Regions from separate parts of the Homo sapiens genome. Here region 1 is linked to region 2. Evidence: fine-mapped expression QTL. Tissue or cell type: whole blood. Region 2 holds a variant in brackets; the other region holds the start of a gene. All regions are shown on one strand. Distances are from middle to middle. Region 1 holds the start of TCF20 (transcription factor 20). Region 2 has its middle 27 kb from the start of TCF20.

Evidence for each region. PIP is the estimated chance that this variant, and not a neighbour inherited with it, causes the effect.
Region 1: TCF20 starts here. The variant in region 2 is fine-mapped to the expression of TCF20 in whole blood (TOPMed, PIP 0.95).

Annotation. Positions count from the first base shown.
Region 1 is chr22:42,267,595-42,272,959 of GRCh38, forward strand. It overlaps TCF20 (transcription factor 20), which reads right to left and starts at 3,059. Exons shown (of 6, transcript NM_001378418.1): 1 at 2,745-3,059. It also overlaps the pseudogene OGFRP1. RefSeq lists an enhancer at 1,813-1,872 and silencers at 2,203-2,442, 2,583-2,642, 2,703-2,852, 2,993-3,152.
Region 2 is chr22:42,295,231-42,300,595 of GRCh38, forward strand. It overlaps a transcript of TCF20 not described here. Among named protein-coding and RNA genes, the nearest start is that of TCF20, 27 kb to the left of the region's middle. RefSeq lists enhancers at 1-216, 2,531-3,176, 4,550-5,228, 5,088-5,317, 5,229-5,365. The variant T/C (reference allele first, on the strand shown) is at 2,984.

The DNA.
Region 1 (5,365 bases), 28 kb before region 2:
GGAGGCTGAGGTGGGAGAATTGCTTGAACCCGGGAGGCGGAGGTTACAGTGGGCCGAGATAGTGCCACTGCACTCCAGCCTGGCAACAGAGAGAGACTCTGTCTCAAAAAAACAAACAAAAAAGTGTTTACTTGTGTGATAGGCCTGATGGTAACATACAAGAAAATTACTACCAAACTGTCTCCGAAGTCAATAATTATAAGCACTCTGCCCCTATGCTGGGATCCTTTTGGAAACTGTTCAAAGAGACTGAATCAAAAAGTGATCTAGCCCAGGCGCAGTGGTTCACACCTGTAATCCCAGCACTTTGGGAAGTCAAGGCAGGCGGATCACCTGAGGTCAGGAGTTCAAGACCAGCCTGGCTAACATGGCGAAATGTTGTCTCTACTTAAAATACAAAAATTAGCCGGGTGTGGTAGTGTATGCCTCTAATCCCAGCTACTCGGGAGGCTGACGCAGGAGAATCACCTGAAACTGGGAGGTAGAGGCTGCAGTGAGCTGAGATCGTGCCACTGCACTCCAGCCTGGACAACAGAACAACACTGTGTCAAAATAAATAAGTAAATAAAAGGGGATTTAATTTTAAAAATTAAATAATATATAAAAATAAAAAGTGATCTGAGAAAGACATATTGTAACATATTGGGCTCATATCCGGCCCAGCAGCACAGTTCTAGAAATTTAAGACAAATTCTGAGGTTGGTATAGAAATACTTACCAGTCAAAAGCACAGCCTAAGGCCTTCACACACCATAAAATCAGTGAAACTAATTGCGGTTCTTCAGCATCTGCGGAGCACTGGCTACCAGTAAGGAGAAAGTTGGGGATGCAGATAATCAGTGCACCCTGAGGTGACAGTTAATTCCACTAGCATACCATTTCACAGGAGATGTTATGGCATTCTACTTCATCCCCCTACTCTGAGAATGCTGAAACTGGCTGGAAATTTCAACAGTTAGCCAAATGTCAAATGTCCTTTGAAGAACTTTAATAAAATCTGGATCCTCCAAAATCCCCTGCGTAGAAAGATCTTGGAACTCCTCTGAGCCAACATACACAGACCCAATCACATGTTATCCACACATTTTCCAAGTAGACAAATATTCTCTGAAACATTTTCTGATAACTTCTTTCACAAAGACAAAAAATATGTTAAGGTGCATTCCACCTAGGTCAGAATAATACACTTTCTGATCTGAAGCACAGAACAGCAAGTGGGATTTCAAAAAAGAGCGTACCCTGACCAACTTTTATGCTCTGTTGAAGGCAGAGGCTGGAAGCTTAAAGACAGGCTTTTAAAAGCCAGCTAAGGTACAGTCTGCATTTCTCAGAAAAGTTGCCTATGGCTAAAACAGAGCACAAAATGAGAGATAAAAAAGCAAAACCACAAACCCCTGTACCGTCTGACCCGGGAGTCCTCACTTAACAGATGAGAAAATTACCAGGGAAAGTAACTTGCCCTGGGCTGCAGTTTATTTGGCGTCAAAGCTGTAAGCAGATTCCTGGTCTCCCAGGTCGGAATTCAGTGTAGCTTCCCCATCCACCTAACTGCCACCCCACGGAAGATGCTGTATAAAACTCTTCACTCTTCACTGAGGCTGTTAACATAAGGGTCCAATTATCATTCAAAGATCAGCCTGTTAGATAATAGCTCGAAAATTCCATCCATTTTACAGCAGTTACCAGAGACATCTAATCTTCGAGGAAAAAAAAGCAAAAAGGAAAAGGGGGAAATCCTAATTTTGACCTGACCCCTAAGGTCAAACTAAAGGATTGAATACAGACCAGCAGACCGTATTGGTATCCGCAACCACAAAAACAGACAATAATCCCACCCACAAGCAGAGGAAGACGGCCGCTCCTCGGCACCGCCCCCCAACTCACTAAATTCCACTCCCATTCCGGCGTCCAGAGGACAGTGCACCTCCCGCCGTAGCCTGAGAGGGATCGGCCCGATTGGCCACGCTCCTTCAAACCACCACTTTCCCCCGAAAAAGGGACGAAAGCCTCAGGTCCCCAAACGAGCGCTCCCTCGCCCAGAGACCCCGGCTTGCACACCCCGCCCTGTTCCCCGCGGCGCGGGAGGAGAGGCCGCCCCACACAGGAAGTGTGTCCTGCGCCGGGACCTTGCGCCCAACCCGCCGGTACCTGCCCTCCGCCCCCAACAGGCGAGAAGCAGCCGCGTCCACATGGCTTCAGGTGTTCACATGGCAGTAAACGGGCCCCTGCTCTCCTGGGCGCCCCAGCGCGGCGCCCTCCCGCCCACATCCCGGCCCAGCCCCGCTGGCCTCGCCTCCAGCCCGTAGCCAAGAGGCGAGCGCGGCCGGTGCCCCCGGGGCTGCCAGGGGCCCCGAAGCAGGCGGCGCTGACTCCCGGACGCCGCCCGCTCACACCCGCCGCCTTTGCACCCAAGGCCTCGCGCGACCAGCAGGTAGACCTTCCCTCCGCACCCTCGGGCCAGCACCGGCACCCAAGCCCCGCCGGAACCCCGGGCCGGCCCAAGACACCTTAGCCCTCTGATGCCAGGCCTGGCCCGGGCCCCTGCCCGCACTCTTGGGTCGGGCCGGGCAGCAACACTCCCCTCAGCACCCCAAGCCCTGACTCGGAGTCCAGGAGGCTCCGCACTCCCAGGTTGGGTCCGGCCGGGACCTCTGCTCCCAGCCCCCGAGGCCGGACACCCCGGCCCGGCCCCAGTCCTTCAGGCCCAACCCTCTCCCTGCCCCTCAGGCCCGGGAGGCGGTTACCTGCAGGAGCCCCCCGCCCAGTCCCTCGGCCTCCGCCGGGGGCGGGCGGGGAGGGAGCGGTGGCGACGGCGGGCGGCGCTGCGCGGGGTGGGGGTGGGGGTGGCTCCGCCGCCTCCAGCTCGGGCGCCCGGGCCGGCGGCGGGGCGGGCCGGGGCCGCGGCCCCTCGAGGCTCGCTCCGGCCCGCGCGCTCGCTCCCCGGTCAGGCGCGCCTCAGGGCGGGCTCCCCTGGCGGAGGCCGCGGCCGCCTCGCAGGGGCCGAAAGCGGCTGGGCTCGGGGTTTTTTCTCTCCATTCTCCCAACACACAGGAAATAACAGAGCGTCAGGTGACGGCGCGCGGCCAATGGGGAGGCTCCGGGCCGCGGCGCGCGGGCGGGCGGGAGGGCGCGCGGCGGGGCGGGGCGCGCGGCGGGGGCGGGGCGCTGGGGGCGGGGCCGGGCGCGCGCGTGCCCACCCGCGTGCGGCGGCGTCGAGGCTGGCGCGCGCCGGGTAGGGATCGCGAAGACCCCCACCTCGCGGCAGGGTCGCACGGGGTTCTCCTCTGCGGCCGCTGGGCGCCGCGCGCCACCCGCCCAGTGCCATCTTGGCCTGCGCCTCAGGGCCGTCTTGGGGGTGGACGCGAGCCAACTTTCTGGGGGAGTTGGTGGCCCGGAATCTCTCTGGGATTTCTGGAGTTCCCTGGAGCCTCCAACTCCAGAATCGCGCCTCTTGCGGCCCGGGAGGTCCGCGGGCGAGGACCCGGTCTCCTCTCGGTGACCTGTTTAGTGGGGTCGGGCGTGGGGGCGGCTCCTGCCCGCCAAGAGCCCTCTGGGCCGGGGGCAGCCCAAGACCTAGCTGGTCCCGCCTGGGTCCCTGGCAGCCCCCGCCCATGGGTTCCAGGTGTCCGTGGAGGAACGACTTGGGTCCTCTCAGAGCCTCAGTTTCCACCGCGGAAAACGCGAGGAGGGAGGCCCACCTACCTCACCTGTAAAACGGACGCTCCAGCTGCCTTCTGCTGCGGCATTAAGAAGCTGCAATGCCAGGCTGACTGCGCCCAGGGTCCCGAATTAATTTGCCGATAAGGCGGAGGATTTGCGGTGCCAAGGCCTCAGCTTGTTCCCAGCCTTCCTTTGCAAACCTGATGTTTCTAAAGCAAAGGAAGGGCTTGACTTCTTTATAAAGAAAATCGCAATTGTAGAGCAACTAATATGTAGATGTTGGTGCCCCCACGGCCATCAAAAGTGACAAGGCCAGCAAGAGTAGGATGCGTTGAGAATTTGTGATCCTGCCCCTGACCTTTGACCTGGCCAAATTCTCCTCCCACTTTGGGCCTCAGTTTCCTGTGGGTGAGGAGAGTTTGGATTAGATGTCCCTAATGTTGGCTAAAATTGCCGATTCTAAATTAGGCTCCCATCTGTCCTAGATGTTAGGGGAGTATGTGGCTTCCTCTCCTGAAGCAACCCAACTTAAAAGTTGGGATTGGAAAAGTGCTTCCGGCAGCAGGTGGGGATTGTCAGGAACCAGGTGTGGTCTGGAACCCAGATTTCCATATATTTGAGGTACACAGCTTCCCGGGGCCTGCTTTTACTTTTTGACCTTTCACCCCACCTAGCCATTGCCTTTTCTCAGGCTACCCAAGGAGGGTCTCAGGGTCCCAGGCAGAGCCCCAGGTGGTCCTGGGCCCCTTGGCAGGAGCATGTACTTGGGGAAGGCAGTGATTTCTCCTGGCTTCTGTCCAATCTCACAAAGTGGGGGCTGGCTCCAAAGCAGGTCAGGACTATTCCTGGGGACTTGATTCCCCAACACCTCCTGCATGCCAGGCTCTTCCGGGGCAGAGCTGAACAAGCCACGGGGCCCTGCCCTCTGATTATTCCCATTGTTCTTCTGAGTTTCATTTTCAAATTCTCAGGCCTCAAGACTTTTAAAAGACCAGTACCTGGCTTCTCCTGGGATCAGGGCTGTAAAGGGAAAGCTGGAAGAGGCACTCAGCACAAATCAATGTTTTCTGGACAAAAATAGGAGAATGCAGGGCCTCCTGAAGACTGGTGTTGGGGGCACCCTTAATTTCTTGAGAGAATTCATGAAGAAAGATGAATCCTTTTTCCTTAGAGTCCCCTGCCCCATCATTCTTCCATTCTTTCCCTTCTTCATAACCTCACTTGCGTCTCAGATGCAGGGCCCGGGGGATGCTGACAATCTGTCGCAGAGCCTCATTCAAAAGGGAAAGAATAAAGAATGCAGACAGATAACTGGAGTCCAGGCGCCTGTCAGCTCCTGCCTCTTATAACCATGCAGCCCCCTCCCCGCCCTTTCAGACCCTGCCAGAACATTGCCCCAATGCCCTCCACCTGGAAACTTCCCCAGTCCTTGGACCAGGCCAGCTGGGCCTCTTTATCCCTGAAAGCCTGCCACTTTCTCTTTTGGTTCCATCTGGAAAAAGAACGTGTATGGGCATCATAGCCAACAGGAAGATGTGGGTTACTCTTGGACTGCGTGGCCTTGGACAAGTCACTTCCCCCTTTGGTTTCCTCAGCTATAAAATGGAGATAATATTATCTCACTGGGCCGGGTGTGGTGGCTCACACCTGTAATCCCAGCACTTTGGGAAGCCGAGGTGTGAGGATTGCTTGAGGCCAGGAGTTC
Region 2 (5,365 bases):
GCCCCTGCACCATAGCCACCCTAAACTCCTCTTTTGCTGCAGCCTCCCCACCCTCTGTGAGCCAGCCCTACCCTTTCAGCCCCATTCACTCCACACTCCCCACCGCTGGGCTGCCTTCTGGTCCTTCCCACCTGGCAAGCCTGCTGCTGCCTTGGGGCCTCTGCCCTGGCTGTCCCCCTCCCTGAGATGCTCCTCCCTTATGTTTTCTTTTCTTTTTTTTTTTTTTTTTTGAGACAGAGTTTTGCTCTTGTTGCCCGGGCTGGAGTGCAATGGCACAATCTCGGCTCACTGCAACCTCCGCCTCCCAGGTTCAAGCAATTCTCCTGCCTCAGCCTCCTGAGGAGCTGGGATTACAGGCAGGCACCACCACGCCCGGCTAATTTTGTATTTTTAGTAGAGACAGGGTTTCTCCATGTTGAGGCTAGTCTCGAACTCCTAACCTCAAGTGATCCACCCACCTCAGCCTCCCAAAGTGTTGGGATTACAGGCGTGAGCCACCGCGCCCGGCCTACTCCCTTATGTTTTCATACAACCAGCTCATGTCCTTCAGGCCAAAGCCTAAATGACACCTCCTCAGAGAAGCCTTCCTTGAACTCCCCACCTCAGCAGCAGAAATCCTGTGCAGCCTTCAGCCCCAACCCATATACCCATCCCCTCCTCCTCCAGGCAGGCTTTCCACACAGCGTGACCAGTTCCCACATGGTACAGGCTGCCCTCCACAAGACCCTGGGCATCACTGAGGGCATGGACTTTGAAGCCAGCAAGCTGGGGTTCCAATCTTGCCTTCCCCGTTTTCTAGCTATAGATGGATCTGTTTCCTCATCCGTAAAATGGGGGTAAGAACAGTCCTTAGCCCATCTGAGTTTTGTGAGGACTACCGAGTGAAGATGTGTCAGGACTTAGACCCCTGCCTGGCAGGTGAGTGCTTGGCAGTGCAGGATCACCATCATGACCACCATCATCATCTTCAGCAGCAGCCTGGCCTCCCCGAGCCAGGCCTCAGCGAACGGGATGCTGTGTCCTTGACCCCCAGCACAGGCCCTGGACACATGGACACTCAGCAAGTACTGGCTCAGTGTCTGACCCTGTGAGACAGGCCTGAGGATGTGAACAGCTCCCACTGCCCTGGCTGCACTCTTTGCTGCTGCTTTGCAAACCTGCAACGGCGCCAACTTGGGGGTGGTGCCGAGAGCCAGTGCAGCTGTGCCCGGCTCCCCAAGGGCCATGAGGGGCAGTTGGAGGCCCCAACACCCAGCCCTGCCTGGAGTCTCCTGGCCGGGATCACAGCCCTGCGGCGTTCGAGCTGCTGCCCACCAGCCGGCCCCCTGGCATTGGGCCCGGGATGCCAGCCAGCCAGAGAGGAAGCAGCTTGGCTGGCAGCCAGCTCACAGTGCCCGAGCTGTCAGCCGGGAGGCAGGCCAGGCAGGGCTGAGACCCCCACCCCCAAACAGGGCTCCAGCCAGGCAGTGCGACAGGGCCAAGTTTCTCCTCACCACCCGAGCCACAAGGGGGCCCTGCTGATGCCAGCCCCAAGCAGGGCTCAGGGATGTAATCACGCTGCAGGGGGACCCAGGAGGCCCCGTCGCCATTTATTCAGCTCAGCTTTTCGCGAATGAGAAAGCAGCACGAGGAGCAGGGGGAGATTTTCAAGTCAAATAACAGTAAAAACAGCAGCAACTACAGCTGACACTCAGCAAGCACTCACTCCATGCCAGGTGCTCCATGCACTCCGGCACTGACATCTCTCCAAAGGAAGGTGCTATAGTTAAACCCACTCTACAGATGTGGCAACTGAGTTCAGAGAGGTGCAGTAACCCACCCAGAACCACACAGCAAACTGGAGAAGTCAGTTTAAACTTGGGCCCCAGAACCTGTGTCCCAACCCCTATGCACTACTGGTTCAGGCAGGCCTCAGTGCCCATACCCACAATGGATGGCCCAGCTGGGCGACCTTGGGCAAGGAGGCTGCCCATCTGGAAAATGGGCATGATCAGAGAGGGCTACGCTGTAGAACTGACCAGGGGGCTGAAAAAAGAAAAACAGGTGAGGAGCTACTTCCTGTCCCCTGCCAGGCCTGAGCAGAGGTCAGACTCCCTAGCTGGCTTAAGGGTTGGTCATATTCATGGAGCGGCAAGAATGAGGAGTGGGTCCTCATTTGCATTAGACGGTAAATCTAAGGACACTGGTTGTGCCTTCTTTTTACCAGCAACAAGAACTCATCAGAGCCCCTCCCAACCTTCTCCCATCCCCCACTGCCTCCTGAGCACCCTCCAAGGGCACAGCTGGGTGAGCCCCATGGCTGGGCTGGAGGGGCCAGACACTGGGGAGGGGCAGTTCACAGGGTCAGCCATGAAAGCCCATGATCCCTGAGCCTCGAGCTCAGCCCCCAGGAGCTTCCCCTTCATAACCTCTTCTCCCAACCCAGACCAGGCAGACTTAGGAAATACTGGCCAGAGAGAATCTTGAGCCACACAATTCAGACAAATGTGTGTGGACTCCCCTCTTGCCCCACAAACCACAACAGAAGGCCTCGGGTCGCATCCCCCCACCAGCTGGGGCCCCTGTCAGGCAGGGCCCAGCATTCCTGGCTGATGGTGAGGAGATGAGACCCAGGGTGGAAGGAACACATGGAGGGTTCACAGCAGGGCTCCTCTCTGGCACCCATGCAGAGCAGGCAAGGATGAACATGTGCTGGTTTCAGGGCTGGGCCTGGGGGTGCAAAGGTGACCGCTCAGCCCAGCTGCTCACATCTGTACAAAGTGGTGGGGCTTTTCAGCATCTGTCTTCTCAATAGACTCAAAGCAAACCCATGGGAGAGAAGGCATCACCACTGTCTCCATTTCTCACATGTCCTGAGAGGGCCAGTGACTTGCCCAAAGTCACACAGCTGATCAGGGCACAAATCCCAGGGCCCTGGTGCTCCTATCACCAGATTCCCTAGCCCGGAGGAGGGCTGAGCCCTCAGCCAGAGCCAAGGCTCAGC[T/C]TCCAGCGACTCATCCAAGAACTGAGATGGAGCAGGGGATGAGTGAGGACAGGCAGGGTTTGACATCAGCGGAGGTGCTCCTGGAGAGAGGGTAGGTGAAGGTGGGCACATGGGCGATTGACCCAAAGGGCCGACTGTTGTTGGGGCACCCATTGGGTGTGGAAGGCGACAGCAGCTGCTGCTGAGAAGTTATTCTAGGGAGACAGGAGTAGTGTCACTATGGTTTCAAGGAGGAAAACAAGGCACATGCCGGGGTGGTGACTCCAGGGCCGAAGCCTCCTTGGCTATCACTGAAGACCATCCTGCCCAGAACCCCGAAGCAGAAGGCCTGGGTCCCAGCCCTGCTGTCAAGTCTCGGCACTTCCCTGAGCCTGGGCTCTTCATCTTTGCACGGATGGTGCTGGGGGAGGGGGCAGTGGGACAGGCAACACTCTCACATCCCCTGTGGATAGCTGGGCACATAGTAGGCCTACCAGCTGGCATGGTCGCAAGTTTGCCCTAATTTCATCTATCTCTGCACTTGCCTTTTGTGGGGACACCCACCTAGATGACAAATTTGACCAAAGAAACCACAGCAGGGATGGGCCAGAGCCTGGAGGCCAGAGCAGCAGGCAGTCCCCTCCCCACCAGGCCTTCCCCAGGACAGTCCAGAACCAGCGTGCCCAATGCCCCGGCCTCCAGGAGCCATCCCTGCCTCAAGTCGGGGGAGGACGAGAGGGCCCAGGGCAGGGAGGGGCCGGGCACCACGGCCAGCACAGAGGAGGCACCCACTGGTGTGTCCTCAGCCTTAGAAGCTGTGGACCAACTGAAACAGAGAATAACCATGGCAGTGATGGGTGGGCTCCAAGGGTTCCCACACCCACCGCCTGCCCAGACCCCTGCTGTGGAGGGGAACGGAGACCTGGAGGGGTACCCCCAAAAATCTGGACTTGGCCCTGCAGGCTTCTCTGGCCTTTAGAAGGCACGGGAGGATGGGGGCAAGGGGGCGGTAGGCAGACAGCAAGAGCAACCAGTGAGCCCAGAGGACAATCACAGGGAGGACGGCGGCAAGGAGGTGAGGCCATGTCTGGCTGGGGGTGCAGGAACTGAGGGTCCTTCCCAGCCCCTCTCCCCACATCCAGCCCCCTGCTCTGGCACTCTCTCCATCTGCCTCTCACACAGTCCTTACCTTGCTCTCCCTCCCCATGGACTCTCTCTCCCATCTCCCCTCCCCACTCCTAGCCAACCTCCAATGCCCTGGGGCCTCAATTTCCCCCAGGACAAAGGGGCCTCAAGGCCTCATGAACAGAACATGCTGGCAGTGGTGGGTCACCCAGGAACCCCGAGGAACTGGAATGGGGGTGGAGGGGAATCACATGTCCCACTGGTCACCAGTCCCTCTTGCCTTTCTGTCCCAGCTAGCAGCTCTCCAACCTCTGTACCTCTCCCCGAACGCAGGCCCCCCTGCCCGCACCCCAACACTTCAAGACCTCCTAGGAGTGACCTGGCTGGGGTCTCTCTAGGTCAGGTAATTAATAGCAGGAGGGAAGTGCAATTAGCAGGTACCTGGAGTGGGGTCGGTAAGAGAGAATAGCAGAGGAGGAGGAAGTGGTGGGGATGGGGGAGGGGAAGAGAGAAGGGGGAGAAGGAAGCGGAGGGGAGGAGGGAGGAGGGAAAAGACAGAAAGGGGTAGAAGGGAAGCTTGGAGCGGGTGGAGGAGGAGGGGGAAAGGGAGCAGAGGAAGAAAGGAGAGGAGGGGAAGGAAGGGCGGGGAGGGGGAGGGGGAGGGGCGCGCTGAAATCACCCGCAACATCAAAGCCTTCCCCAGCCGCAAAGCAGTCACGTGCAGCCTGGTTCCTTTCGTTCCTTCGTTCCTTCGCTGGTAGAAGCCGCTGGGCCTGGGGCTGCTGAAGGAATTTTAAAACGAGGCAGATTGTCTGGAATATCAGGGGGTTAGGGGAATGCGGTTTTATCTCAAGGCAGGGTAAGGGGAGGCAGGTTTTGAAACCTGTTCCCCCAAGGAGAGCGGCAGGGCTTTGGGGCCTCTGCTAGGAGGCTGGGCAGGTGGCCAAGAGTGAAGACCACCCAGCTACTCCTGCCGGTGAGAGCTCGTGGCTGGGCCAGCCCAGATATCAACAGAAGCCAGAAATCTAGATTTGTATGTGAAAACTTCCCTGTTTTAATTTTGGCTCAAACTAAAAAAAAAAAGAAAAAAAGCGCCACATGGGCCAAATAGAGCATGTCCTGACTGGGGCCCAGAACCTCGGTCACCTCCCACTTCTGATGGTGGGCAGCAACGCTTTTGTTTCCCAGGGGGCACTGAGGCCCAGGAAGGGAAAGGCACTTGTTCAGGGACACACACAGTGAGTGCTCAAGGGGTGCGGGCTAAGACTTGGGGTCTCA